Regions from separate parts of the Homo sapiens genome. Here region 2 is linked to region 1. Evidence: fine-mapped expression QTL. Tissue or cell type: whole blood. Region 1 holds a variant in brackets; the other region holds the start of a gene. All regions are shown on one strand. Distances are from middle to middle.

What was found. PIP is the estimated chance that this variant, and not a neighbour inherited with it, causes the effect.
Region 2: OSBPL8 starts here. The variant in region 1 is fine-mapped to the expression of OSBPL8 in whole blood (TOPMed, PIP above 0.99).

Annotation. Positions count from the first base shown.
Region 1 is chr12:76,579,471-76,595,639 of GRCh38, forward strand. The region is part of intron 3 of LOC105369850 (a long non-coding RNA gene); the gene reads left to right. Among named protein-coding and RNA genes, the nearest start is that of OSBPL8, 28 kb to the left of the region's middle. RefSeq lists silencers at 4,535-4,735, 9,685-9,885. The variant C/T (reference allele first, on the strand shown) is at 9,476.
Region 2 is chr12:76,550,456-76,566,624 of GRCh38, forward strand. OSBPL8 (oxysterol binding protein like 8) reads right to left here and starts at 9,316. Exons shown (of 24, transcript NM_020841.5): 1 at 8,942-9,316. It overlaps LOC105369850 (a long non-coding RNA gene), which reads left to right and starts at 9,447. Exons shown (of 4, transcript NR_188081.1): 1 at 9,447-9,778; 2 at 11,840-11,903. RefSeq lists an enhancer at 8,237-8,546 and a silencer at 8,957-9,146.

The DNA of each region.
Region 1 (16,169 bases):
ATAAAAGACCACAAATAACCAAATCAATCTTGAGAAAGAACAAAACTGGAGGCACTACATTTTCTGATTTCAAAATATATTACAAAGCTACAGTAATTAATACAGTAGGTACTGGCATAAAGATAAACATAAACCAATGGGACAGGATAGAGAGCCTCAAAATAAATTCACACATACACAGTCAACACACCATTCTCCTGCCTCAGTCTCCCGAGTAGCTGAGACTACAGGTGCCTGCCAACATGCCCGGCTAATTTTTGTTTGTATTTTTAGTAGAGATGGGGTTTCACCGTGTTAGCCAGGATGGTCTCAATCTCCTGACCTCGTGATCCACCTGCCTCGGCCTCCCAAAGTGCTGGGATTACAGGTGTGAGCCACCGTGCCTGGCCATCTTTATTTATTTTTAATTAATTAATTAATTTTTTTGAGACAGAGTTTCACTCTGTCACTTAGGCTGGAGTGCAGTGGCACAATCTTGGTTCATTGCAAACTCTGCCTCCCAGGTTCAAGTGATTCTTCTGCCTCAGCCTCTCGAGTAGCTGGGATTACAAGTGCACGCCACTACGCGTAGCTAATTTTTGTATTTTTAGTAGAGATGGGATTTCGCTATGTTGGCCAGGCTGGTCTTGAACTCCTGACCTCAAGTGATCTGCCCACCTCAGCCTCCCAAAGTGCTGGGATTACAGGCATGAGCCATTGTCCCTGGTCTATTTTTAATTTTTTTTGAGAGACAGAATCTGACTCTGTTGCTCAGGCTGGAGTACAGTGGCACAATAATGGTTCACTGCAGCCTCGAACTCCTGAGTTCAAGGATCCTTCTGCCTCAGCGTCCCCAGTAACTATAATTACAGGCATGTGTCACCAGGTCCAGCTAATTTTTAAATTTTTTTGTGAAGATGGGGTCTCACTGTGTTGCTCAGACTGATTTTAAAGTCCTGGCCTCAAGTGATCCTCTCTTCTTGGCTTTCCAAAATGCTGGGATTACAGGCATCTGTACCTGGCCCAGTCAACAGGTTTTTGACAAGGGTGCCAAGATAACACAATGGGGAATAGATGTTATCCTAAACAAATGGTGCTGGGAAAACTGGATATCTATATGCAGAGAATGAAATTGGACCCTATACCTGTAATCCCAGCACTTTGGGAGGCCGAGGCAGATGGATCACAAGGTCAGGAGATTGAGATCAACCAGGCCAACATGGTGAAATCCCATCTCTACTAAAAATACAAAAATTAGCTGGGTGTGGTGGTGCATGCCTGTAGTCCCAGCTACTTGGGAAGCTGAGACAGGAGAATCGCTTGAACCCAGGAGGCAGAGGTTGCAGTGAGCTGAGATGGCGCCACTGCACTCCAGCCTGGTGACAGAGCAAGACTCCGTCTCAAAAAAAAAAAAAAGAAGAGAGAAAAGAAATTGGACCCTTATCTAACGCCATCCACAGAGTAAACTCCAAATGTGGTCTAAGTGGTGGTGCCTATAATCTCAGCTTCTTAGAAGGCTATGGCAGGCTGGGCACGGTGGCTCACGCCTGTAATCCCAGCACTTTTGGAGGCCGAGGTGGGCAGATCACCTGAGGCGGGAGTTTGAGACCAGCCTGACCAACATGGAGAAACCCCGTCTCTACTAAAAAATACAAAATTAGCTGGGTGTGGTGGCGCATGCCTGTAGTCCCAGCTGCTCGGGAGGCTGAGGCAGGAGAATCACTTGTACCCGGGAGGCAGAGGTAGCGGTGAGCCGAGATCGCGCCATTGCACTCCAGCCTGGGCGACAAGAACGAAACTCTGTCTCAAAAAAAAAAAAAAAAAAAGAAAAAGAAAAAAAAATAAGGCTATGCCAGGAAGATCAATTGAGCCCAAGAATTCAAGACCAGCCTGGGCAACATAGAAAGACCCAGTCTCTTAAAAAAATAAAAATAAAAATAGATTAGAAACATCAGACTCAAAATAGTAAAACTCCTAGAAGAAAACGTTAAAAGCTTCATGACTTTGGTCTTGGCAGTGATATTATGGATATGACACCAAATGCACAGGCAACAAAAGCAAAATAAACAATAGTCTGGATGTTCCTCAAAAAACTTAAAGTAGAACTACCATTTATCCAGCAATCTCCCTTCTAGGTCTTTGTCCAAAAGAATTGGAACCAAGATCTTAAAGAGATATTAGTACTCCTATTTTCATTGCAGCACTATTCATAATAACCAAAATGTGGAAATAAACTCAATGTTCATTGACAGATGAATGGATGAAGTGGGCAAATACATACAATAGAATACTATTCAGCCTTTAAAAAGAAGAATTTCTGCAATATGAGACAACATGGATGAACCTTGAGGACATCATGCTAAGTGAAATAAGCTAGTCACAGGAAGATAAATACTGCATGGTTCCACTTTTATGAGATATCTAAAATAATCAAATTCATAGAATCAATGAGTGAAATGGTAGTTTCCAAGGGCTGGGGGAAGGAGGAAATCGGAAGTTACTAATTAATGGGCATAAAGTTTCAGTGAAGCAAGGTAAATAAGCTCTAGAGATCTGCTGTGCAACATTGTACAATTTCAATAATGTATTATTTTCTTAAAAATTTGTTAAGAGAGTCCAGGTGTAGTGGCTCACGCCTGTAATCCCAGCACTTTGGGAGGCTGAGGCGGGCAGATCACGAGGTTAGGAGATCGAGACCATCCTGGCTAACACAGTGAAACCCCGTCTCTACTAAAAAATACAAAAAAAATGCCAGGTGCCTGTAGTCCCAGCTACTTGGGAGGCTGAGGCAGGAGAATCTCTTGAACCTGGGAGGCAGAGGTTGCAGTGAGCTGAGATTGTGCCACTGCACTCCAGCCTGGGTGACAGAGCGAGACTCCGTCTAAAAAAAAAAAAAAAAAATTTGTTAAAAGAGTAAATCTGCCAGGCGCGGTGGCTCATGCCTGTAATCCCAGCACTTTGGGAGGCCGAGGCTAGTGGATCACGAGGTCAGGAGTTCAAGACCATGCTGACCAACATGGTGAAACCCCGTCTCTACTAAAAACACAATAATTAGCTGGGCGTGGTGGCAGGCGCTTGTAGTCCCAGCTATGTGGGAGGCTGAGGCAGGAAAATTGCTTGAACCTGGGAGGCAGAGGTTGCAGTGATCCGAGATCGTGCCACTGCACTCCAGCCTGGGTGACAGAGTGAGACTCTGTCTCAAAAAAAGGAGAGTAGATCTCATGTTAAGTGTTCTTGCCACAAAACATGTTTTAAATATAAAAGGGAGGATAGTGCCTAAATCAAGAAACTTGAATTGACACAACTTATTCCAAAATCCCTGGGAGATTTCTACTTCTTTAAAAAGAAATGTGCTATCTGTAAGGTCACTCTTAGCTGCAAGAGAGACAGGATATTTTTAAGTTTACGTTGTCATCCAAACTTGAATTGGATTTCTGTTACTAAGGAAGAAGCAGAAAATGGATATTAAGCAGGTAATTTGTCATAGTCCATTCATTGGACTGTGAATGGCTTAACACACCATATTGTAAATATATTTTTTGAAATCTGTTTCTTTCCCTAGACTGTAAGATCAGGACTGATTTTTTTAAATGTCTGTATCCCCTCATTTGGCAAAGTATTTTGCACATAGTATATGCTAAGTATTTATACATGATTTGCTATTGAATGTTTCCTGTGGATTAGTTTATTATGAGTAAAAATTAGGAAAACTTTATTACCAGCAAAAAGTAGGGAGGAAGTTAGGAAAAATTATCACTAAAAATGTTAGCATATGTGACTTCTTCTTGATACTTTTAATTTTTGTACTAATTAATTGATTTTTAGTATATCATAAAAACCCTATTTCTTATATAATTATAAGGTAACTTCAGAACATAAAAACTTACAAGAATATCACAAGTATCTTAGTCCATTCATGCTGCTATAACAAAATACCATAGTGTGAGTGGCTTATAAAAAACAGAGATTTATTTTTCAAAGCTCTAGAGGCTAAGAAGTTTAAGATACGATACTGGCAGATGCAGTGTCTGGTAAGGGTCTACTTCCTCATAGACAGCTGTCTTCTCATTCTAACCTCACACGGTGGAAGGGCTGAGGGTTCTCTCTCAGGCCCATTTTATAATGGCAGTAATCTTATTAATGAGGGAAATAACCCTATAATCTAATAATATCCCAAATGCCCCGCCTCCCAATACCATCATTTTGGAGGTGAGGAGTTCAACATTTGAATTTTGGGGGAACATAAACATTCAGACCACAAGAACAATAATTTATTTGTTTATATTAAAAGGAACCATCTTCTCTGCCTCACAGTTTTCCTACCTGGCTCTTAAAATAGAAATATGTTTCTTTCAGAACTATAGAGTCAAGAGGAAATTTCATCTTTCTTTCTGCCACTTTCCCCAAGTGGAAGGAGTTTTGTATTTAATTGGTGATTTGGGGAGAAAAACATAAAACCCAAGCCATTTCTTGCCATCTTTTTCAAATCTTCCCACCCACAAGAAATTATATTCTGCTCAGTTCCTCAATATATGTCATAAACTAAAAACACACGGATTAGGGCCTATGCTTGTCTTCTAGAACAGGCCTGAGGCCTAACTCTCATTCTTTCTACTGTTGATCTCACCAAGCAGAAACAGTGATTCTACACAAGTCTATCCATCGTGCAGACTCAAATTCTCCTGTGGCGAGTCATCACCCATTTGGACTTAGGAAGTATTTGACCAGCTTGGCCAACATGGTGAAACCCCGTCTCTACCAAAAATACAAAAATTAGCTGGGCATGGTGGCAGGTGCCTGTAATCCCAGCTACTCGGGAGGCTGAGGCAGGAGAATTGCTTGAACCCAGGAGGCAGAGGTTGCAGTGAGCTGAGATCACGCCACTGCACTCCAGCCTGGGTGACAGAGTGAGACTCCGTCTAAAAAAAAAAAAAAGAAATATTGAAAAACCTGGTCATGGTTGTATATTATAATACATCCAATCAGCTTTATCTTAGGAAGCTTTTTTGAAATGAAGTCTCACTCTGTCACCCAGGCTGGAGTGCAATGGCATAATATCACTGCTCACTGCAGCCTCTACCTCCTTGGCTCAAGCGATCCTCCTACCTCAGTCTCCCAAGTAGCTGGGACTACAGACATATGCCACATGCCTGGCTAATTTTTCAAACATTTTGTAGAGATGGAGTCTCCCTATGCTAGGCTGATCTTGAACTCCTGGACTCAAGCAACTCTCCCACCTCGGCCTTCTGAAGTGCTGGGCTTATAGTCATGAGCCACCATGCCAAGCCGAGAAGTTGGTATTTTATCTTTTTGGCTTCCTATCAATTGGGTCTGAATTCAGGGAAGAGTTAAGATGTGTGAGCAGCTATCACTGCCTAAGCCCCATTAATGACAGGATAGTAATACATTTTTTAATAGGTAACTCTAACCAAAAGTAGTTGTTTTATGAGAACCTAGGTCTAGCAAAAGAAATAAACTTAAATCTTGCCAGTCTAACAATAAGGGAATAAAATATCCCAGCAGCCAAGTGTGGCAGCTTATGTCTGTAATCCCAGTATCTTGGGAGTCCGACACAGGAGGATTGCTTGAGCCCAGGAGGTCAAGGCTAAAGTGAGCCTTGGTTGTAGCACCATGTTAAAGCCTGGGTGACAGAGTGAGACCCTGTCTCAAAAAAAAAAAATTTTTTTTGTTTATTTATGAATGCCTACTGTGTGCAAGGCAGTGTTCAGAGGAGAAGTTTAAAGAGTTAGAATACTAATACTTTAAACAAAAGTTACCTGGTACTCTAATTTTATTGTTTGAGTTTTGAATTGCTATAATGATCAAGGCAAAGAAATATCATAATTATAACATTTGAGTGCTTATGGCTTGTCAAATGAGCAGTTTCCTGCGAAACAATATCTGATTGAATCCTCAAAACAACTCTGTGAGACAATACATGAGAATAGTCTAGGTTGTGCTGCAGTTGGGAGAAAAAGCAAATGTTTAACAAAAAGTTAGCTCTGGCTGCAGGCAACTCTCCAGGCAACTGTCTTCCATGCAACAACGTGATAATCCAGGCAGCTTCAACCTTGTGGTGCTGCCATCTTAAGATGAATCTTTTTCCATGGTTGCCACAGTCGGGAAAGAAAAAAATTTCATATCGACCTTTTACTGCCACATCCTGAAGGTGACACACGTAAAATCTACAGTTTTCACTGGCCAGACCAAGTCACATGGCTCCATTCAGTTGTAGGGTCGCTGAGGAATACAGTCAATCCACTGAGTGGCCAGAAAGGAAAGAGAAGTAAATATTGATTAACAAAGCAATATGTAGCATAAATAGCTATTATGACTGTTGTTTTTATATAGGTGAAGAAATGTAGGCTTAGAAAAATTAAGTTATTCATCCAAAGGTACATATAAGGTAAGTAGGGGAGCCTCAGCATATGGACCTATCTGACTCCAGAGCCTGTGCCTAACTTCTATCTTCCATTACCTCCCAGCACCGCACTGGAAGCCTGGCAGAACCTAGCCACCACTAGGGATATTTAATTCAATTCATATACATTCAGTTCAATTCAAATCAGCATATATTTGCTAAATGCTTTCTCTTTGCCAGGCATTGCAGCTGCATCTGGAGGAGGGTTGAGCTATTTCACCATATAGATCTCCTACGACTTTGAGACTGTGATGTAAAGAAATAGGCAACTGTGATGGTTATTTTATTTGACAACTTGGCTGGGCTGTGGTACCCAGATATTTGGTTAAACGTTATTCTGGATGTTTTGGTGAAGGTGTTTTTGGATGAGATTAACATTTTAACCAGTGGATTTTAAGTAAAGCAGATTACTTTCCATAATATGGACGGGCCTCATCAATCGGTTGAAGGCCTTCATAAATCAAAGACTGACCTCCCCAGAGAAGGAAGGAATTCTGCCAGCAGGTTGCCTTTGGACTCAAGCAGAAACTGAGTCCCCACAATCATGTGTGCCAATTCCTTAAAATAAACATCTATATCTATAATATCTATATGTATACACATTCTGTTGGTTTGGTTTCTCTGGACAACCCTAACTAATATAACAAGCTTAAAAATTAGTTCTATAAAACAGGGCTAAGAAATGATTCTTTATTATACTTTAAGAACAAGATCCTCTGCAATCCCTATTTACTTTTATCTTTGAATGTTAAGTAAAAATAGCAGAATTCTAAAATAACCTACAGAAATAAGTCAAGATTCATTATATTTTCTATAATACAAGAAGTTTTACAAAGCTATTCATCATAAAATACATAAATTTTTGCAAGGAACCTTGTGGACTGAAAAAACAGCCAAAACAAATCTGCCACATACAGGCCCCAGAATGTGGTTTTATAATCTGTCCACTTAGGAAACTGTTCCAATTATCTTCACAAATTCAGTATTGTGAGAATGTGTCTAGGTGTTAATTATCATTTTAGAAGGAAGTCAGCTCTCCTACACAGCTAAGAATGCTAACAGTCTCCAATTTTAACTTGTTCTCTTATACAAGATGCTGTTTTGGGAAGTATTTAGTTGCCCCCTGCTGGCCATACAATTGCAGGATTCATTTTTTAAAAAGTTCTCAGTAGATTGCAGATGATAATGATAAACTTCTGAAGAGATGCATTCAACTTTTTCATCAGATGAATTCACAATAGACTTCCAATGCTCAATTGAGATACGTAAGTTAATAAAAAAAATTTTTTTCCCCACCACCTGGTATAGGGTGAAATGTTCCAGCAGGAAGACTTTAAGCTAGATCAGTGGGAGAACAGGATGAGATGTAGGAGGAGTGACTGAGGGGCTTCACAGGCTCCCTTTCTTCTTTAACTTTTGTTTTAGGTTGAGGAGTACATGTGCACGTTTGTTATATAGGTAAACTCATGTCATGGGGGTTTGTTTTACAGATTATTTCGTTACCCTGGTACTAAGCCTAGTACCCAGAAGTTATTTTTTCTGCTCCTCTCTCTTCTCTCACCCTCCACCCTCAAGTAGGCCCCAGTGTCTGTTTTTCCCCTGTTTGTGTCCATGAGTTCTCATCATTTAGCTCTCACTTATAAGTGAGAACATGCAGTATTTGGTTTTCTGTTCCTGTGTTAGTTTGGTAAGGCTAATGGCCTCCAGCTCAATCCATGTTCCCACAAAAGACATGATCTCATTCTTTTTTATGGCTGCATAGTATTCCATGGTGTCTATGTACCACATTTTCTTTATTCAGTCTACCATTGATGGGCATTTAGACTGATTCCATGTCTTTGCTATTGTGAATAGTGCTGCCCAAAATTCCTAAACACAATTTTCTTTCTATAATACTCATGTCATATTTTATGTCTCTTCATATCCTTTTTAAAACCATATGGAAATAATTTACCAAATTGAGAGGAAAAAAACACTTGTTCAAGAAGCTTAAAAACTATATTTTTATCCTGTCTCTGCTACTAACTCTCAGGCTAATCTTGAGCAAGACTCTTTAACTTTTGGCAGTGATAAATATGTTTACAAATTTTGATTTTCATTCCCGAAAGTTTCTTCATGCTATTTTGTAATTTCTTCTTCCTGCCACTCTTGGGACTTTCCCATCCTCAAGTTACCACTGATCCACTCTCTGTCACTGCAGATTAATTTGCATTTTCTTGATAAGAAAATTATTTTATTTTATTTATTTATTTTTGTTTTGAAACAGAGTTTCGCTCTTTTTGTCCAGGCTGGAGTGCAATGGCGTGATCTCAGCTCACTGCAACCTCTGCCTCCCAGATTCAAGTGACTCTCCTGCCTCAGCCTCCCAAGTAGCTGGGATTACAGGCACGTGCCAACATGCCTGGCTAATTTTGTATTTTTAGTAGAGATGGGGTTTCATCATGTTGGCCAGGCTGGTCTCAAACTCCTGACCTCAGGTGATCTGCTAGCCTCGGCCTCCCAAAGTGCTGCGATTACAGGCATGAGCCACCATGCCTGGCCGAAGAAAATAATTTTTAAGCTTACTAGCTAAGACACTTTATAAAATGAGATATGGAAAAAATGTAAATGCTTTATAAATATTTTTAAAAATTGAGTTTCCCTATCTTGAAACCTGAGGTGCAGTGTGATGCAGTGGTTAAAAGCTTAACCTTGGGGCCAGGCACGGTGGCTCACACCTGTAATCCCAGCACTTTGGGAGACTGAGGCAGATGGATCACCTGAGTTCAGGAGTTCGAGACCAGCCTGGCCAACATGGTGAGACCCCATCTCTACTAAAAATTTAAAAATTAGCCAGGCATGGGGGTGCATGCCTGCAATCTCAACTACTTGGGAGGCTGAGGCAGAATAATTGCTTGAACCTGGGAGACAGAGGTTGCAGTAAGCTTAGATAGCACCACTGGAAAAAAAAAAAAAAAGCAAAAAGCTTAAACTTTTAAGCCAGCAAATGCGGGCCTAGGTCTTGGGTCTTGGCTCTGTTATTTACTAGCTGTATGATGTTGGGCAAGTTACTCAACACCCTGAGGTTAACAGTTT[C/T]CCCATGCTTAGAGAAACAGATAATAATAGCATCTATCCTCATAAAGATGTTGTGCAATTGCATACAAAACACTTAGCTCAGTGCTGGGCCTGTACATAAAAAACCTCAGGGTTGACTACCAATGGTAGTCATCTATCTTTAGACATTTCAAAGAGCATCACCTTAATTCTAAGAAAAGGAAATGAGAAATGAGAACCCTGGCCATGCAGCCAGTGCAATCCTAAGGCAATCATTTTAGAAATGTTTTGTGAGGATTATCATAGTTCACTGTGTCAGACATGGTATCCAGCTGACTCTGACTCAAGCCCTTTTCTTAAGCACCCCATTGGTTTTCTTTCCTCATAACTCTTTCTCCAAGTGTCATGGTATCCCTTTCTTTGTAATTCCATTCCTCCCCCTCAAACATATGACCTGACAGTCATCTCATTTCACCTTTGTGATTTGACATATAACTTGGCCAGAGCAGAGTGATAGTCATCACTTGAGATGGCAGGCATGGTGGAAATAGAGATAATTGAAGAAACAAGGCTTATTTGTGAAAAATGTTCTTTAATAGTTTTATCCCTTGTATTCAAGTACTTCTGTTGCTCTTTTTTGAGCTCTGCCAGGTTTACACTTATTAAATTTCTCTCCCTACAATGGAAACTACTTGAACCCCACTTGCCAGCCTAGCCCAATTTAGTATCTTGGGCCAATTCTAATTTTATGAAAGAGAGAGTTAAGATGCTGTATCTTGAGATTTGCATAGAGAAAGCACCTTTAGCATGCTTTCTTCCATGAACTTTTAGCACTGCCTCATTATAGTGTAGAGAAATATATGGGTAGGGGGTAATTAATTTCTGAGGAGGAGAACCTCCTGCCTACCATCCCTCCTAACTTGTAGCATACCATTTATACAAGTTTATTCTCTTCTGCTATCTTAGCCTGGCTTCTTCCCTGAAATCGGAGTCTGAGACAATAACTTCTGTGCGGATAGTTGATTTTGGGAAGAGATCCCAGTGAATAGGAGTGAGGGGCTAGGAAAATTAAGACATGAAAGGAAGGAAAGCTAACTCAAGAATACATTAATCAATCTGAACATTGTTGTAGGTAACTCAGGCTCATTTCTCTGGATCTTTGAATAGCTACCTAGAATTGTCTGCCTTCCCCCAATGTGGCAGACATATCCTAAGGTAACCCCCAATGATCTCTGCCTTCTGGTATTAATGACCTTCTTTATGCCCCTCACCGTAAGACTGGGTAGAACTTGTGAACTGCTTCCAGCCAGAAGAATAAGGCAAAGGTGATAGGATGTTACTCCCATGATGTAATGTAATACATGCATTACAATATATGACAAATGTGATGGGATATCACTCCCATGATTATGTTATATTATGTAAGAATCTGTCTTGATAGCCGACTCACTCTCTCACTTTCCTGCTGGTCTTGAAGAAACAAGTTGTCATGTTATGAACTGCCTATCGGAGAGGACCATGTGGCAAAGAACTCAGAGGTGGCTTGTAGAAGCTGAGAGCCAACAGAAACAAAACAAAACAAAATCTTGAAGCTCTCAGTCCTGTGACTGTAAGGAAATGAATTCTCCCAACAACTTGAGAGAGTTTGGAAGAAGATTCTTCTTTCTTCAGGCTTTCAGATGGGAACATGGTCCAACCAACACCTTCACTGTAGCCTGGAGAGACCCCAAAGTAGAAAACCCAACTAAGGTGTATCTGGACTCCTGACCTACAGAAAGAGAGATAGTAAATGTGTGTTATTTTAATGTGTTCAACTTGTGTTAATTTGTTACATCGAATTGGAAAACTAATAGAGATTTTGGTGCCTAGAGGTAGAATGCTACTGTAATAAATATGTAAAAATATGTCTGTGGCTTTGAAACTGATCAGTGGACAGAGACTAGAAGAATGCTTGAAAAGTATGATAGACAAATCCCAAATCACTGCGAACAAACTCTCAGTAGAAATGTGGATATTGAAGACTGCTGTTGAGGACTCAGAAGGAAGTAAGGAACATGCTATAGGAAACTGGAAGAAGGGAGATCCTTGTTATGTACTGGCGTAAAGCTTAGTGAAATTATTTCTTGCAATTACGTTGAAAGCAGAACTTGTAAATGGATGAATTTGGTTATATAGTTAAGGAGATTTCCAAGCAAAGTGTTGAAGGGGACAACTGGTTTCTTCTTGCTACTTACAGGAAAATTCAAGAAAAGAGACAAATTGAGAGAAGAACTATTAAGCAAAAAGGAATCAGGACTTGATAATTTAAAAAATCCTCATCTTCCCCAGATGGCAAAAAATATTAACAGTTGGAGATGGCTTTTGGGCACTGTCAGAAAAGCCTACTCTAGAGAAAATGCACTTGAAGTTACTCTATAATCTTTTTTAAAGCCCCCAAAAGATCAAAGGTCAGAGTACTCAGGGGTATTTCAAGATACGGCCCTTAGATTTGAAAAGATCTAAGGGTATGCCTCAGATCCTCTCAATCACACTATTGAGCCTCTAGGAAGCTTAAAGGAGATGGAATTATTTTTGAAACAATCTGTAGATGTGGCCTTTGTCTGATAAGAGTGAATGCCACTGAAATACAGAAAGAACCACAACATTCTTGAGAAAATTATTTCTGCAGAAACAGTGCCAACTTGGAATAAGACAGACAGAAAGACTAGAAAATGAAAAGAGGCTGTCAGACCTCCAAAATTTTACTGGCAGAAAGCAGGCTGATAAAACTACTCATCTGCAAACACATGCTACCTTCCATGAAAAAGGAAGAATGACTCAGATGGTGGAACCAAGAACCCAGAAAGCAGAGCCAAGAGCCATGAAGAATCATTCCCAAGCCTAGAAACTTAATTAAGGAACTTCCAATAAATCCAGTTGTATTTCAAAACTGCTATAGACTAGTGACTCCTTTTTACTACCCATTTCCCCTATTTTTAAACTGGAATGTCTATAGCTATTATCCTGTGTCTGTCCCACCATTGTATGTTGGGTGTGTTGGAGGCAGATAACTCATTTCCTTGGTTTCAGAGGTCCATAGTTAGAGAATAATTGTGTCCAGGAGCTTTACTTAACAGGTTATACGTAGGAGGCTCATCTGCACCTGGACTTGATTCACATGATGAAATTTTAGAATTTGAGCTGATGCTATAATGAATGAAACTCTTGGGAACTGATATGGTTTGTCTCTGTGTCCCCACCCAAATCTCATCTTGAATTGTACTCCCACAATTCCCATGGGTTGTGGGAGGGGCCCTGGTGGGAGATAATTTGAATTATGGGGGAGGTTCCCCCATACTGTTCTCATGGTAGCAAATAAGTCTCACGATATCTGATGGTTTTATCAGGGGTTTTATCAGGGGTTTCCACTTCTGCATCTTCTTCATTTTCTCTTGCCGCCGCCATGTAAGAAGTACCTTTCACCTCTCAGCATGATTCTGAGGCCTCCCCAGCCATGTAAGTCCAATTAAACCTCTTTTTCTTCCCAGTCTCAGGTATGTCTTTATCAGCAGTGTGAAAACGGACTAATACAGGAACCTTGGAAGGGGAGAAACCATATATTTCATATGGGAGGGCCTGAGGAAAGACTGGCAGACAGAACCTAGGCTGATTCTCCAATGACCCCCACTTTCTGATATCAATGCCCCTGTTAATTACATCCCATGAATATGGGAGGAATCTGTGAAGCATCTAACTTATAGAATATGGCAAAGGTGACAGAATGGCATTCCTATGATAACATTATGTTATGTAAGACTTCATATTGCTAGTAGACTCTTCTGCTGGCCATGAAGAAGCAAACTGCTATGTTGCTGCCTATGGAGTAGACCACATGGCAGGCAACTTGAATGGACTCTAGGAGCTAATGGCATCCTCCAGCTGACAGCCAACCAGCACACTGAAGCTTTCAGTCCTATATCCTCAATGAAATAAATTCGTTCGGCAAACCATATGAGCTTGGGAGCAGATGAGCTTCCCAATGAGAACACAGCCCACCTGATGCATTGACTCTAGCCTGGAGAGACCTGGAAGCAGAAAATCCAAATAAGCTGTGTCTGTACTCTTGACCACAGAAACTGGGATATAATACATGTTATTGTTTTAGGCTGCTAGATTTGGTAACTTGTTATCCAGCAATAGATTACAAGTGCAGTCAAAGATTGTCCCAGAGAGTGTTAACTTCTTTACTCTTCCAGGTTGTACATGCCTAAGCGCAGAGTGGGTTCTCATTGGCATCCATGCCATATCATCAGAGCAGCACAGGTTTTGAAATGATAAATATGTGGTACAGTTGCACAAAACTGGTTGCCATAGCAATAGTTGGTATAAAAGGTAGGCTGAAAGGATGTGAAAAAGATTATTCTAGTTTGTCTCATCCTGGCTACCATTTCAGGGAGTCTGTGTTGCTTGACTGGGTGGGGGCAACCAGATCATCATCTCTGAAGGGTCTGAACTCTAATTCTTGCTCTTCAGTGAGTCTTAATTATTACAATTACCCATTTATACTTATCACCAGACATGGAGCACGAAGAAATAACTCAGTGAATCCTATGTGTTCCATGCATCGGACTTCCTGTCTCCATTGGGTAGCAGCAACTCTATTTCATATGGGTAATCAAGGTCAGTTATCACCACCAAGATAGTAAGTGTTTTCATTGATGGTCCACTGACACAAGTGATCTAAAATGATCATGTGATAGTTATAGTTTCCAGTTCAATGGAGACTTCATGTGTGCCCTCATAGAAGTCCCCTTCATACCAAACAAGTGCTTCTAATCCTGAAAAGCCTAAGAATGCACAGATAGGAAGCCCAAATTCTGCAAAGGGGTCAATGGGAGTGTTGGTGAGAGCCATTCCTACAACCACCCTTTGGTTTCTGGACCTGTATATTCTGGCTATTGGAAACACACCACTAGAAATCAGCTATACTTTTTTTTTTTTTTTTTTTTTTTTTGAGATGGAGTCTCACTCTGTCACTTAGGCCGGAGTGCAGTGGTGCAATCTCAGCTCACTGCAGCCTACACCTCCCGGGTTCCAGCGATTCTCCTGCCTCAGCCTCCTGGGTAGCTGGGATTACAAGCACACGCCACCGCACCCAGCTAATTTTTGTATTTTTAGTAGAGAAAAGGTTTCACCATGTTGGCCAGGCTGGTCTCAAACTCCTGACCTCAGGTGATCTGCCCGCCTTGGCCTCCCAAAGTGCTAGAATTACAGGCGTGAGCCACTGTGCCCAGCCATCAGCTATACATTTAATGCACCTATCTTATTCTTGAGAACAATACCCTATCCTTTTGAAGTGTTAGTCCTGCATGGGTTCCTTGGCTAAGTCTTTATTAGATTATTTTATTGTTCCATTAGGATGGCCAATTTCATGTTTATGCCCCATTATTACACCTATTTTATCATAAAATGGGCTCTTTGATATAAAAAAATAGGTAGAATTCAATGCCAGTAAATCAGGCATTCAGTAAGTTCTTGTACGGTGGGTGGTGCTGACAAAGGTACCTACAACAGTGAAGAAAAATGCATACCCATAATAGGTATCAATTCTGATAAGTACAATTTGCTATCCCCTCCAGGGTTGAAAGAGTCCAATATAATCAATTTCCCACTGAATGGTTGACTAGCCTTCTTAAGGGATGGTGCCATAATGAAGACTTAGCATTTATCTTTGCTGCTAATAGACTGGACAAGCAGCAGTGGCCCAGGAGAGAGGGAGTTCATGCTATTGGATCATTCACAGCCTTTATCCCTGCCACCATGGCCATGTAATTATCATAGGCCCATTGTGTAAACACAGATATTGCTGAGAAGAGAGACTGAATGATTTCTACTAGACAAGTCCTGTCTACTTGGTTGTTTAGTGCTTTCTCTGCAGTATAGGCTCTCTGATAGGCATTGAGGTAGCACACAAATTTCTGCACACTTTGAGCCTACTCCAGTGGTCTACCCATACATTTATTCCTTGGATATTTTTATTTCCCATCTTCCAGTCTTTCTCCTCTAGGCCTGTCTGACTAACCAACCAAGCCAATTGCCATCATTCAAAGGTCCATGTACATCTATACATCAGGCCTTTTCTTCCTTTATAGAAAGTAGTTGATCAGGTACACTGCTTACAGATCTGCAGTTGAGAGAATTTCCCTTCAAGAATACCCTTAAGTAGGGTGGTTGTGTAGCAGCAGTCCATTTGGAGTTAGCACCAACAGATTGAGATGAACTTTCTGTGATTAAGATTCCATGCGCTATTTTGCAACATCATGCATTTAGTCATTTGGAAAATAGTGCTTCATTGAGTTATGCATATCTTCCAAGTGCTGACAGATTTCATGTTGAAATACCCCAAAAAAATCACATGTGTTATTGTCACCACTGATCTCATCAGAAAATTTTTGAAGAATCAAGAAGCTGCCAAATTCATAGAGGTAGATATGAGTTTTAAAAAATTCTAAATTTTGTTTGAAAGCTCAAATGTTATCATTGGCAACAAACGCTGTGAGTTGTTTTCCTTGAAGTGACGGGATCACTTATTTTTGAGAAAAGTTCTGACACATACCTAAGTCTGAATAACTATAGTTTATCTGTCTGTCATTCTTTCAAGTAAAGATAATTTTCCATGTAAAATAGTGGCTTAACTCACGACTCAAGCACAAAAATCATTTTCTTTGAGATAACCTTAGAACTTTGGTGTGCAACA
Region 2 (16,169 bases), 29 kb before region 1:
TTACAGGGGAAAAAACGTGTATTTGTTTAGGCCAGGGGTGTCCAATCATTTGGCTTCCCTGGACCACACTGGAAGAGAAGAATTGTCTTGGGCCACCCATAAAATACACTAACACTAACAATAGCTGATGAGCTTTAAAAAACAAAAAAATCTCCTTATGTTTTAAGAAAGTTTATGAATTTGTGTTGGGCCGCATTCAAAACTGTCCTGGGCCGTGCGCAGCTCACCAGCCAGGGATTGGACAAGCTTAGTCTAGCCAATAAAAAGTACAGCTACTGGTTTAGAAGAAATAATCACAAGGTAATAAATGGAAAATTCAAGTAATTTCTAAAGCTGATAAAGAGAAAGGTGAATCAACATTAAGGCTGGGTACCAGGGTTCATGCCTGTAATCCCAACATTTTGGGAGGCAGGAGTTCAAATTCAGCCTATGCAAAATAGCGAAACCCTGTCTGTACAAAAAAAATAAAGTAGCCAGCCACAGTGGCACAAACCTGTAGTCCTAGCTACTGGGGAAGGTGAGGCAGGAGGATCCTTTGAGCTCAGGAATTCTGCACTCCAGCCTGGAGTGCAGGAGACAGGAGGAGACTCTGTCACTCAAAAAATAATACAAACATATATATAGTATATCAAGGAAGAGAGGAAAACACACACACACACACTAGAAACTAGGATGTTTTATAAAAACAACATAGCTTCCTTTATTGGATATACAGAAATGAACTGCTCCCCATGAACCTTACCCAACCCCTAAAAGGGGAAAAAGTTCTTTAATTAAGGATAATAGTTTCTTTCCATTTAAAATCATTTCTTTCAGATTCACTCATTCACTCAATCTTTAAAGCAGTAGTTCTCTACTGAGAGTGACCTTGTCCCCAGGGAACATCTGGCAATATCTTGAAACATTTTTCATTGTCACAATTAAGAAAGATGGTACTAGCATCTAGTGAGTAGAGGCCAGGGATGGTGCTATACATTCTACAATGCACAGGAACACACAACAAAGAATTATCCAGCCCAAAATATCAACAGAGTCAAGTTAAGAAACCCTACTTTAAGAAAACTCTTCAGACTTGTATAGATTTTCTCTGTTCCTCATTCTTATCATGGTGACTGGGCGTAAGATAAAGCTTTCATGGGCATCTGGAGTATTATGATTAGCCTGAATACAGACCCATGGATTGCCCTGGGGATCCTCACAGGCCTCTAAGGTTTGAATATTGGCCCTCACAGAGTCACAATGGCACATGCTGATGAATATGTTGGAACAGTATCCAGAGGATCTCCTAACTTGGCCCCACCCACCTCAGCTCCTGCTGGTACGGATATTATTACAGTCTCGACTACCTCGTCTATCCAGTCCCTGGCTTATACTTAAGGCAACACTAGCTGCTTAACAAATAAACCCCAGATTTTCGGTAGCTTCACACAATTAAAATTTCTCATTAATATTACAATCCATTGTGGGTATTCCTATTTGGTACACAAATTTCTTTCACATGGTAAATTTAGGGACTGTAGAACATTCCAATCTTATGGTTTTACTATCCCTTAAGAGCCTAAACCTCTGCATCTGGCCCTTGAATTAGAAAAGAGAAGGTGAAGAAAGAATACCTATTTTTTCTGCCACTTCAACCCAGAAGTGACAACAAATTGATTTCTATTCACATTCACTAGTGAAAAACTAGTGGCAGGCACAGTGGCTCACACCTGTAATGCCAGCACTTTGGGAGGCTGAGGCGGGCAGATCGCTTGAACTCAGCAGTTAGAGACCAGCCTGGGCAACATGGTGAAACCCCATCTCTACCAAAAATACAAAAAATTTGCCAGGCACGGTGGCACATCCCTGTAGTACCAGCTACTCGGAAGGCTAAGGCACAAGAATCACTTGAGCCCAGGAGGCGAAGGTTGCAGTGAGCCAAGATCCTGCCACTGCACTCTGGCCTGAGCAACAGAGCGATACCCCATGTCTCCAAAAAAAAAAAAAAAAAAAAAAAAAAAATGTTGCAAGCAAGAGGGAGCACAAATTTTTGTGGGCAATGAAATGAATCTGCCCTTCCCACAACCTCTGTCTACTACATGGTCCCTCCCTCACAATAGCAGCCTAATGACAGGCTTCCTGGCTCTCACTCTACTAACTTCTATTTCCTTCACTAGTCATATGTGAGAACATCCAGATCTCTTTCAGACCATGTAAGAACCATGGAAAACTCACAGAGTGCTATCTCTGGCCCCCTCTCTGCTTAAATATGCCATTTTCTTCCCTTTTGGCCACCCCAAGTCAGCATAGGGCCAGTGCAATAGGCTAGTAAGTGGCTGTACCAGTTCTGAACTTTGGCAGTCTGGCTCCAGGGTTCGTGCTATTCTGCCTCTCCAGATTTCTAAAATAGGTGATAAGACAGAGCACTTCCATTACTACCAATGGATATTTGTAAAGCACCTACATCTTGCAAAACAGCCTAGAACTATTACAAACTCCACACTATGATGCACAGCACTGCTTTTCTTTACTTCCAAATTGCTGATCTTACAAGTTATTATAATCATAACAATGCACAAAATTACACACTAAGCAAAGCTAGTCTCCAGAAGTCCCTCATCCTACTCTCCACTTGAACAATGTACCTGTGCCCTCACATCCAAAGCACCCCACCTCATTACTCTACCCGGTAATAATGTTACTTAGATTGAACTTCTCTCTCTCCAGATCTACCATACTTCCATCCCATCAAAATATACCAACATAGATTCCATAATTTCCACATGGGCCCCAGCCTTCCTTGTAAAAAATTATGTAATCTGACAAACTATTCCTGCTAATATGTAGGCATTTGGCAGCCAAAAAGCAAAAATTACCTTACTGGTGGTCATCTCAACAGGACAGATTTCAACTGTACAGATCTGTGTCCCTCAAATATCACTAAATAGGCCTGGCATGGCAGCTCACATCTATAATCCCAGCACTTTGGGAGACCAAGGTGGGAGAATCATTTGAGGCTAGGGGTTCAAGACCAAGCTGGGCAACATAGTGAGACTCTGTTTCTAAAAAAAAAAAAAAAAACTTAAAAATTAGCCAGGTGTGATGGTATTCGCCTGTAGTCCCAGCTACTTGGGAGGCAGAGACAGGAGGATCACTTGAGCCTGGGAGGTCGAGGCTGCAGTGAGCCATGGTAGTGAGTGCCACTGCACTCCAGCCTAGGTGACAGCTCAAGACCCTGTATCAGAAGAAAAAAAAAAAAGGCCAGAGGAGGTAGCTCACGCCTGTAATCTCAACACTTTGGGAGGACGAGGCAGGTGGATCACTTTACGTCAGGAGTTCGAGAACAGCCTGGCCAATATGGTGAAACCCCATCTCTACTAAAAATACAAAAAATTAGCTGGGCATGGTGGCATGCACCCGTAATCCCAGCTACTCAGGAGGCTCAGGCATGAGAATCACTTGAAACCGGGAGGCAGAGGTTGCAGTGAGCCAAGATCACACTACTGCACTCCAGCCTAGGTGACACAGTGAGACTCTATCTCAAAAAAAAAAAAAAAAAAACACTAAAAAAAAATGCATACCAATTCTGTGAATCAGCCTTATTCTTTAAAACTATTTTTTAATTATAACAACTTAGCTTTAAATACTGTTATCTATTATGTTCTTTAATTTCCAGTTACTCCGAAATTCTCTGAAATTCCCCAGTGAGAAAATGGCAACTGGATGAACAATAAAATAAATATTTGCTTTACTCTAAGTATTTTTAAGATTTAAAAATAGGATGTCAGTCAAATACAAGTAAAATGAGAGAAAAAAAATCAAGGCTATATTCCATCTTCTTATAAAGTAAAGTGCATTTTGTAAATGACACAACTAAAACAGACTCAGGAAGATCACAAGGTCAAGACGTATCAAGAGGAGCAACTGCAAATAAATTATACAAGGCAGTATATAATATGATGGTTAAAAGGATAGGCTCCAAAGTCAAAGGTCAGGTTAAACCTCAAGTTTAAATCCTTTTAGTAGGCTCTACCACCTACTACTTAACTTCTCTGTGCCTCAGGTTTAGTTCAAATCCTGGCTCCACCACTTATTTAATCTGTCAGTTGCTCAGGTTTAAAAAAAAGAAAATAGCCTGATTGCGGGGTGGTTGTCAGGATCAAATGTGATGACATGTCAAGTACTTCTAGAGTAGTACAGTACCTGGTATATAGCAGTTGACGCACATTAGCTATTAATATGACCTATAACAATTTCCCTCTGAATCTATCAAGTTTTCAAAAACTCTAAATCAAAAAGCTTCTCCTTTTTATTTGAAAAAAGTCAAGCTCTGAAACCATTTCCTCTTTTTTTCAGTCCTTTTTGAATATGGAAATTAGTAGGTAACTGGCTTATCATTTGATGACTCTTCTTAGTCTTTGTATAATAAAAAGGCTCAAGACTCTTCTTAGTCTTTTTATAATAAAATTCTCTTCCAAATATTATACAAAGGACAGACTGCTCCATGGATCAAAAACACTACAAAGAGTTCACAAAGTATAATGAAATTCTGAGATTCATAAATGAACAGCTACTGGCACAAAAAGCTTAGATAAGAAATAATGCAGATGTCTGTTTGTTTGCTCAAGAAATACTGAATTTTATAATAAAACACAGATGGTAGAGATCTTCATGGCTTATAGTCACATCACTAAAAACAGAAAATATTTTTGGTAAATTTTTTCTTAACAACCAGAAAACCCCTTATTTCATCACAACAATGAATAGATAAATGACATTACAGGCAAAGACAATTTCTTCAAAAACAAATTACGTAGAGAAAAAAAGCTTAAAGGCTCAGATTTTCAGCTACACATATCCCTTACTTTGAGCTTCAAAAATTTGAGGCTTCTAGCACTCCTTGTGGTCTGTAACATTAAGCAGTAATACAATTAGGCCTCATTTCTACCAGAAAACATTAAACTGACTGAAAGAAAATTATCTAGAATTTTGATTCTGATCAATTTAAACATAATGCCATGAGTCATCTAGATGAGTCAAGCAAATATTAGAGTTCATGATAAACGAATCAAAATATGTTTTAAAGATCTGCAGACAAACGTTTTAATAATTTTGTATTTGCTGAAGTCCTCCTATGTGTGACACATTGAGGTAGGCACATTCATATTGAGGTATGCACTTTCACATGCATTATATAACTTTGTTCTCCCAACGATCATGGATTATTATCCTGATTTTACAAATGAGAAAACTAAGACCAAGTGATTGGCCGATGGAAACGACGCTTGTATAAGATTCAGTCAGAACACCAATTCAAATTTTCTGACCCTTATCGTACTTCCAAAACTCAAGTACTGTCAATCTCTGCTGTTGCAAAGCAAGTTAATCTTTTTATTTAGGGAGAGGTGAAAATAGAGATGGGAGAATAAAAATTCTTCATAATGTTACAAAAAAAGACTTACTGTGCTTTATCTGACATAATTTATTCAGTCTGACTTAAATGCTTTGCTGCACGTTGTCTACCCCCTTAGACACTGCTTATCTTCAGACACACAGCCCACACCAAAACCTAACTCAAGAATCACCTCCTCCAAGAAAGTTTCCCAGATTAAATGACCTGTTCCCCTTCTCCCAAGCTAACATCCTTCCTTTATCATTTCGCTGCTTGCATTTAGTTTGGACTACATTATCAGATACTCCTTTTGTTCTCCAGTCATATATCTGGAAGTAGACTTTTTTCATTCATTAACTATTGAACATTTGGAGATTCAATGGTGAGCAAAACAGACAAGGTCCTTGCTATCATGGAGAATTTACATTATCTGGATCTTCGACAAAGGTAAAAATAACAGGGTATAAGAATATGATGCTCTAGGACTAGGATTTCTTCCCTATAAGGTCTCCGAAAATAGCTCTCTCCCTTGCAAGCTTGATAACACTTTTCAGGAAGAAAAATTCCTTCTATCACGCCTTCCACATGAGAATTTTATGACTTTGTGAGGATATGTGAGGGATGGGGACCAAGGTGGGAAGAAAGATCTAAAATCTCTCAGGGGTTTCCCACATACTGCCATGAAATATGCACACAACATGAGTCTAGACATCTCTTCCTGTGTCTCATCACAAGGAAGCTATACTTTGGCCACAACTGCTCCAGTCAAGCACTTCTACTAATCTCCTTGTACCCAGCCACCTTCACTAAAAATTGTATATTTCTCAGAGGCTTTTTGTTTTTTTGGTGTTTTTTGAGACTGAGTCTTGCTCTATCGCCCAGGCTGGAGTGCAATGGCATGATCTTGGCTCGTTGCAATCTCTGTCTCCTGGGTTCATGCGATTCTCCTGCCTCAGCCTCCCAAGTAGCTGGGATTACAGGCACACACTGCCACGCCCAGCTAATTTTTTTGTATTTTTAGTAGAGACGGGGTTTCACCATGTTGGCCAGGCGGGTCTTGAACTTCTGACCTCATGATCTGCCCACCTCAGCCTCCCAAAGTGCTAGCATTACAGGCGTGAGCCACCGGGCCTGGCCTCTCAAAGGCTTTTTTATTCAAGTTGTGTTTCTGTCTTATTTGCAGGTCATTATTTGTAAGATTAAGGCAGGACCTATGTCCTCTTTGAATTGCCTGATGCTCCAAGAACATTGCTATAAATGTTTTTAACTTTCAATATAATACAAACATTACAACATGACATTTCAGGCATTGTTATTAGGATAATATTAGGATAAAAGTTTTCCAAATTAATATTAGAAAACTAGATCTATGTACTGTATCAATTCTTTGTCTTTAATGCCTTAATTCAAGTAATCTACTTTTGAAGGATTATTTACAAACCAAAGCCAAGTTGAAATGTACTAACACTGGTTAAAATTCTGCAATTCATACTTTTAAACAAAAGATCCGCCAGACACAGTGGCTCATGACTGTAATCCCAGCACTTTGGGAGGCTGAGGCGGGCGGATCTTGAGGCCAGGAGTTGGAGACCAGCCTGGCCAACATGGTGAAACCCCATCTCTAATAAAAATACAAAAATTAGCCTGGCATGGTGGCACGCACCTGTAATCCCAGCTACTCAGGAGGCTGAAGCATAAGAATCTCTTGAACCCAGGTGGCAGAAGCTGCAGTGAGCCAAGTTGCACCACTGCACTCCAGCCTGGGATACAGAGTGAGACAGTCTTAAAAAAAAAAAAAAAAAAAATCCTTTTGTAATGCATATTTTACAAATTCATAATTTCATCATTTTTCTTAAAGCAAACTAAAACATAAATTCATTATACACAATTGTAAATTTATCCCCAAAGTGTTTTCTAAGGCTTCCAATTTTTAAATGAACCAAGGAACTGAATATTGACAAATGTATAAGTACCCTGAATGTGTTATAAAAAACATATTTGACTGTCTTTAAAATGCAGTAACATTCTAAGGAAAATACAGTAGCATCTTTCCACAGATCAGAGATTCAATAACTATTATGATTCAATCAAAGAGAAATAAACCATGGCCATTTTTAATTAAACAGGCATTTCTAAGCACCTGTGTACACGGTATTGCTGTTCAAACGGTTGACATGGAATGTGACCGCAATAACTTGATGTCCATAATTAAAGACCCAAAAGGTAGCTTAAGTTTCATCTATTTCCTTTCTCAGCCCTTTGAGCAGGTATATTATAGTCACTCCATACACGGTTAATATTAAAAAAAAATAAAAGTAACAAACATTTGAAATTAGTTGTACTTTTATAGAGAACAGTTTTAAATTGCATGGCCTTACTTTTCCTATTCCAACCTATTTTATAAAACTAGCATGATCTTAATAATTTCACTGCAAAACAGGTTCTAGCAAGCATAGAAACTGATCATAGCCTCTCAGCAAAATCAAGTTTAGATGAAACTCTAGGAAATTAGCAAAATTTAACAATCAATTCACCCACGATTCTCCACAATTCTTGCTCTCTCTAGATACGAAGGGAGGCAAAAACTGTTTTAAAGGATTATTTCAAAAGCAGCACTAATTTTGGGAAAAACTTAACTGCCATGCAGGAGACACTGTATTACTACTCAGACGTCATTTAAGTCTTCTAGCAGCAGAAAGGCAAAAACATCATTAAATTTTTTATTTAATGCATATATACTTACATTATCAGTTAAAGTTTACCCATCTGTTTACGTTGTCCAAGTTACCTATTATTTCAGAAAGCATTTAAATAAAATGAAATTAGGTTACGTTCTGCAACGCAGATGTGTCTCATAAAGAAGAGTGTTAAATGACTTTTGTGAATGGAAAATCTGCATATACTGTTGCTTCGCCTCAGCCAGTCTTGAGTGGGTGGTTCAATGAACCTAAAGCATGCTGCCTGTGAAGCTCCTTGGAACCTGATTCCACTCTTGAGAGAGGGCTTAGAAACAAACATTAAATTTAAAAGCACAGCAAAGGCTTGGCTTTCCTCCTACGTTACAAGAAGGCCGGGAGAACTGAGGCTTAGAGGAACAACACCGTGTCGCTTGGCTCTGCAAAGGCGGGTGCGGTCTGCGGTGCGCGGCACAGCCTTCTCTGGGGCTGTCACAGGAAAGAAGGAGCCTCGCCTTAACCGCACCGAGCGACAAAGCGCCAGCTCTCCTGGGCGCGGGGGCTCCCAACGAGGCCCATGCCATCAACCTATCAAACTTCAGGAGGGACAGACACCCGGGGCGGTCGAAATGCTCCAACAGCCTCCCACCCCCGTTCCCCTGCCGCGGCTTTTGTAAGGCTGCAGATGCACCTACTGTGGGCCCCTAAACACTCCACCCTGCCAGCCTTTCCAATCCCCCTACTCCAAAAGGGAACAAAGGAGCCAAAGAACTCCTCGGCGGGGGTGGCCAGGAGTCCCCGACAGCCCGAGCTCAGAACGTGGCAATAAGGGTGCGCAGTCGCCCTGAGGGGTGCGAACCCAGCACCCCAACCTCAGGAATGGAGCAACACTCACCCGTGCGGAGCTCCCAGGGAGGCGGGACGCAAGGAGCCGGTTCCTCCGAGGTCGCCGCGGCGCCGGGGTCCGAGGCCCCGTAAGCGTCTAGTCAGACCCCAACTTCTCTCGGCCGCTGTCGTCGGCGGCAGCTGGGGCGCGAGCCTGGACGAAGGGCGCTGCCCAGCGGCCGCGGAGGCACTGCCGGCTCAGCCCCCGAGCGGGGCGGGAACTTTCGGCCCCGAGGTCCACCAGCCCGGGCGGACCCCCACCTTCCCTCAGTCGGCTTGCTACCGGCAGCGGCTACTGCGGCGTCCAAAGCTAACACTACAGCCGCCGCCTGGCCAGGAGCGCGTCGCGGCCTAATGTTGTCATCCGCCGCGTCGCCGCCTTTCTGGGCACCCAGAACCGCGAAGATCCTTCACATTCTAGTGCCCTCCCCCTGCCCCGCCCGCCCCCCGGATCACGGGCTTCGGCCACGCCCTCTTCCCGTCACGTGACGGTGCGCGGAGGCGGTGGTGGAGTTGCTTCCCCTGCTAGGCGGGCTCGAACCGGGCGGGAGTCACTGTCCACCTTGCTTCGCCAGGGTGTTATCGCCAGCCAGTCCCCTTCCGCATGCCCAAGGGCAGCCTCAGGAAGCGAGCCCACCACCGTCGGCCCAGCGCCTGTTGATCGGCCAGGCCTTCTGGGCCGGTCATACTGGGCCCTTCCTAACCTGAGGAGATTGCACAGTAGGGCTCCCTGGTCTGGTCAGGGCTCAGTTAGGACCCCTCTCCAGCCTTAGGCTTGGTGAAAGCTTTAGCGAAACAGAAAAAAGAACGCATCGTGGTGTAGAGTGTATGGCCTAAGAAGCATTCGGTAACTAAACTACTTGTTCCTATTTCTAGTGGCACATTAACCGTGGCATTTAATTTACTGCTTTCCTCATTAGAGGTTTTTTTTTTTTTGAGGAAACGGTGTATTTCAATCATGCTGGGATGAAAACAGCCTAGCAAACTTATTTTTGTTCCTTGTTATGTTCAGGATCCTGCTGCCAGTTTTACAGTCATTAAGTTTTACAGTGTGTTAGGTTGGTGACAGTTTAAACGGGTACGCAGGAATTTGACAGTTTGTTCCATTTTTTAAAATAAAGCCTAATTCTTGATTTTTTTTCTAATGCCTTAATTTTTTTTTCCTAATTCCTTAACTCTAGGACTTAACCTTTTGCTTTCTTTTTTAGCCATGATCCGAAGAACCCTCTAGCCGCCTAATGAAATCCTAACTATACAGAAGTAAGGGAGGTAGAATAAAGATCATACTCAAACCCTGATCACAATGAAGGCAAATGAGAAAGCTTTCTGTAATAATTAAATTGGGGTCATAACTCATTTTCCCTTGTAGCCCAGAACTAAGGATTTTTTTCTTAAGCTATTCTCATCTCATTACATTTTCTTAACAAGAAATCAGAAGGCATTCTGATAAGCTGGATACATTGAAATGAATAAGCAATAGAGTTTGGCCTATATAATTATTATTAATATATTTCATAGCAGCTCTAAAAAAATCATAGACTTACATTGTTTTATGTTACCCAAGAAAGAAAACAAAGGCTGCCAATGAAACTATGCCATACCGCTGATATGTAAGGCACCTTTAAGCCACATCTTTTTCCTTTTTTTTTTGAGACAGGGTCTCACTCTGTCTCCCAGACTGGAGTGCAGAGGCGCAATCTCGGCCCACTGCAATTTCCGCCTCCCGGTTCAAGCGATTCTCCTCCCTTAGCCTCCCAAGGAGCTGAGATTACAGGCATGCGCCACCATGCCCAGCTAATTTTTGTATTTTTAGTAGAGAGGAGGTTTCACCATTTTGGCAAGGCTGGTGTTGAACTCGTGACCTCAAATGATTCACCCGCCTCGACCTCCCAAAATGCTGGGATTACAGGCATGAGCCACCGCGCCCGGCCTGAGACACATCTTGAATTCAGAGATGTAAACATGTCAGAAACAACGAGTCTTAGAATCTCTGAGATATTGTCATGAACTGGGAAACAACGAGTCTTAGAATCTCTGAGATATTGTCATGAACTGGGAAACAACGAGTCTTAGAATCTCTGAGATATTGTCATGAACTGGTGTTCCAAAGAGGAAAAGATTCTACCAGGTTCTGTTCTGAAGCCTGAGAGACTGTAGTACAAATAAATGTGAAGGAAGTTTATTATTCTGTGACATTATTTCAGCAAAGCTAGTAACTTTGGAGTTTGTTAACAGATTAACTTGTCTCCTGTTTTCTAGAGGCATGTTTTTCAACCTGCAACTCAAAAATCAATTTCATTTTTATATGAAATAGGCTAGGATGTAATACAATATAAAATACCAGAGTGCATAATGTCTAGTAAGGGCAAAAATTGCTTCCTGAAACTTTTTGTTTCAAATATGGTGGAAGGTGAGAGTATGTCCTATGTTGTGATTTAAACAATTTCTTACTGTGAGTTGCAATCAAATAGATTTGGAAAAGAATGTTCCTAGAGCATAGATAATATGCAAAATACACCATCTGGACCCCGTTTTTCTGGTACTTTTATTTTACTTTGGAAACTGAGACTAAAGATTAGAAAAAGGTGGCAAATTGCCTTGCCTAATTCTCTTCTGCCTCAGCCCCAATTTCATACATTGGCTTTTGAAAATTTGATCATTTGTTGGAAAAAGCAATGTACTGGAAGCAAGGAAGCCTAGGTTACAGACTTAGCTAATGAGATGTATGACTAGATAAATTACTCCCTGCATTTCAAGTTCCAATCAAGTAGGACCACATGCTGTTTGAGAAATGATACTAAACCACCTTTTTTTTTTCCCGGTGGATGGCAATCACATTGGAAACAAACAGACACGGTATACTCAGGATTATGCAAATTACTGACAGCCTACGTTTAACTTCTTTCAGCTCCACTCAAAAAAAAGAAAGTCCTAATGCAAGTAATTGAAAGTGAAGATATTGCAAAACAAATGTAAGTATATCTTTCACAATCTTCTCTACTTTGATTATCACTAGTATAATAGTTACTTGTCATGAATAACTAATGATTTTGACATACTTAACAACTGATTGCAACACAAAAATATATTAATCCACTACAGTTGAAAAATCATTTTTTCAGATCCTTTCAAATCTGATATTGTGATTCCAGGAATGATAATTCAATCTAGCATTTTCAATGTAATGACAACATAAACAGAAACTAATATGTGATCCTGCACTGTAACTGAAAAATATTCAGTAACTCCCAGAGATGCCCTGCAAGTTTGCTACTCTTACAATGATTTTAAGAATGACATTTTGAAATAAAGCTTTTTTATTATAACGATCCGATTTTAACTCCAATGAGAATTCATCTCTTTTGCCTACTGCTTTATTAATTATACATTTCTAAGAATGGGAAGTTCTTTCCAAATTAGTTTAAGCACTGACAGGCTTGACAGCCTTTCCCACAGTATATTTCAACCCTGACCTAGAATGACAGAGATGTTGCTTGAGGTTGTTTGCTTTTTTCCATTTGGCTTATCCCATTAGACAATTATGTTGCTGACAATTACTAATCAGGATTCTAGACTAAAATCCTCATTTTCTGGAAGAGAATTTAGATTAAGAGCAACCTCAGCCATAAATAAGGTATTCAACACAGCTTTGAAGACTTGTATTCTTGTTGGTCATGTGATTTGCTTTAGCCAGTGCTTTGTGAGCAGATGTTAAATGCTAAATCAAAGCAGAGGCTTTAAATTTGATTGCAAAATTCAGGTCAATCTCTTACTCTTGTGCCACCTGCCATGAGAAAGGTATGTTCCAGATAAGATCTCAGAATAAGAAAATAGATGGAGCAGACCTGAAACTCTCACCCTGTACAGAACTGAAGCAACTGACTTGCAGCTCCTGACATACGGCTACTGATGTGAAACAAGAGTAAAACAAAAATATTTGTTGTTGTGAATCACAAATATTTTTGAGATTGTTTGTTGCGTAGCATAATCTTGCAAATCATCTAAAGTGAATTTGAGCCAACAAACTCATGAGTCAAAGGCTAAATGTACTGTGGAACAATAATATTTGTCTATTTAATAAAATAAATAACAGACATCTACAAACTAGTCAACCAGCTATTTGGTAAATATCCACCTAAAATTTATGTTAAGAAGCAGTCTTTATAAAATCTGTAAATTTGCATGCAAAATGTTTGCATGTAAGATATTTACATACTGATTTTAAATATTTCTGTTTAGTATTATTTGTCTTAAATATCCCTTGAGGAAAATTTGGATAGTAAAGTATAAAGAGAATATAGGATTCTGTTTCTAGAAATATCAAGGACTAGTTCACACTTGTCACACTGAAAACAAAATCCCTGGAAAAAACATTTTTTAAATCTTATTAAATATATTGATTAACTGACAATAGGGTAAGAAATTATTAAGTTAAAAAACTAAATGAAGGCAGGAACCTAGAGTTTAGCAGAGTCAGCCAACTTTTATCTCAAGGGCATGTGCTAAACCCAGTTACTAGGAGCATTGGTTTTCGTGACCTTGTAAGAAAGACACAAAACCCATTACCTGCATTATACACACACACACACACACACACACACACACACACACACAAACAACTGCAATTCCAAGGATTATTAATTTGATGTAAGGATATACTAGAAATAAACTTGCTGCTTACTAGCATAGGCACCCATCCCCCAGAATCTACAAAGAAAATTAGCCGTCTTAAACCTTGGCACCTGGTGGACAGGGGAAAAGCAAAATCGTATCTGAGAATTTGGAACTGCAATCCAATTCTCACACAAAAACGTAGCTTGAATTCATACTAGCTGGGTGGTCCCCAAAAACTTCAGGCTAATAATTAAGATTTTTTTTTTTTTTTTTTTTTAGACAGGGATTCTCTGTCGCCCTGGCTGGAGTGCAGTGGCATGATCTCAGCTCACTGCAACCTCCGCCTCCCAGGTTCAAGCAATTCTCCTGCCTCACCCTCCCGAGTAGCTGGGACTACAGGCACGTGCCACCACGCCCAGCTAATTTTTTTATTTTTAGTAGAGACAGGGGTTTCACCATGTTGGCTAGGCTGGTCTCGAACTCCTGACCTCGGGTAATCCGCCCACCTCCGCCTCCCAAAGTGCTGGGATTATAGGCATGAGCCACTGTACCTAGGCGTAATTATGAATTTTTGACTGATAATGCTCTCAGAAACCTGGCAGAAGCAAATACCAATCCTCTCTGGAGGAACCCACCTTCATCTTAAGCCATAAAGAATGACTATAAATAAAATTTTAAGGAAAATGAGCAGCTCACATTTAAAAAAAAATAACAAGCACAGAATAAGACACCATTCGTGAGAAACAGTACAGACTTAAGACAGCACAAACAAATTTTAAAAGACTTCAGATCCTGGATTTACAAGTCACGGACTGGGCCAGGTGTGGTGGCTCATGCCTGTAATCCCAGCACTTTGGAAGGTCAAGGCAGGCAGATCACTTGAGGTCAGGTGTTTGAGCCCAGCCTAGCCAACATGGTTAAACCCCCATCTCTACTAAAAATACAAAAATTTCGCCTGTAATCCCAGCTACTGGGAAGGCTGAGGCAGGAGAATCGCTTGAACCCGGGAGGTGAAGGTTGCAGTGAGCCAAGATCGCGCCACTGCACTCCGGCCTGGGCGACAGTGAGACTCCACCTCAAAAAAAAAAAAAAAAGGGGTCACAGACTGTAAATAACAATATTAAATATGAGTAAAGGAATAAAAGACAAGTTTGAAAATATGTGCAGAGAACAAAAAACTAAAGTAGGAATGAAGATTTTGAAAAAAGCAAATAGAACTAAAAGAGTTGAAAAACATAAATGATTAGAATAAAAACTCAGTGGACAAATTTAGTAGTTCATTTGACACAGCAGAAATACAAGCCAATGAAATGGAAGATAAAGATGAAGTTAAATGCAATAAAAAAAGAAAACATAAATTAAAAATATAAAAGAGACTTTAAGTGACATGGAGGACATTGTAAACAGCTCTAAAATCTAATTATGACTTCAGATGAAAAGGAAAGAGCCAGTGGGCCAGAGGCAGTATTTGACAAGATAATGGTTGTGAACTTTCCAGAACTGATGAAAGACTCCAACTCACAGACTTAAGAAGCCTCCCAAATCCCAAGCAAGTTAAAGAATAATAAAACCACGCTGAGATATATCACAGTGAAACTGTAGAACACCAAAAACAAAAAAGAAAACCTTAAAAGCAACAAAGAAAAAATATAGTTAATCTTCAAAGTGTCAGGTAAATGACTTTTCATCAGAACCAGTGAAAAACAGAAGACAGTGGAATAATATCTTCAGTGGACTAAAAGAAAATGACTGTCAGCCTAGAATTCAGTACCCAGTGAAAAAATTATTTCAAGAATGAGGCCAAAATAAAGGAATTTTCCGGCAAGCAAAAGCAGAATTTGCCGCTAATAGAGTCTCGCTAAAGGAAAGTCTAAAGAAATTTCTTTTTTCAGACAAAAAGAAAATGATCCCAGGCCAGGCACAGTGGCTCACGCCTGTAAATCACAGCACTTTGGGAGGCTGAGGCAGGAGGATCACAGGAGTTTGAGACCAGCCTGGACAACATATTGAGATTTTATCTCTACAAAAAATTTAAAAGTTAGCTGGGCATGGTAATGTGTGCCTGTGGTCCTGACCCGGGAGGCTGAGGTAGGAGGACTGCTTGAGCCCGGGAGATCAAGGCTGCAGTGAGACATGATCACACCATTATACTCCAGCCTGGGTAATAGAGAGAGATCCTGTCTCAAAAAAAAAAAAAAGAAGAAGAAGAAGAAAATCAACTCAAATGGAAGGTCTGAGAGTTGATAATAAACGAAGAGCATTAAGAGTGGTAGATATTTGCCTAAATCTAAATACAATTGACAATGCAAACAAACAGTAAGTATTGTTAAAATTATTTTAATAAGTTTTTTTAAAGAAAAAAAAATCACATATCTAACATTAGAAATAGACCCAACCAAATTTGCATTTTATGCCTACTATTAGACCTCATTAGACAAAGTATTTTACAAACTAGTACTATTATCTCCATCTGATACATACCTTTTATTTTAAAAGCAAAAACATGATACATTTCTTCTTTTCTCATCCATAGAGGCAAATTGTATTAATATATTATTGGTATTCTCTTTTTAAATAACAGCATTTTAAGTGTTTTTCTTCACAATGACATTCTTATTTCAAAT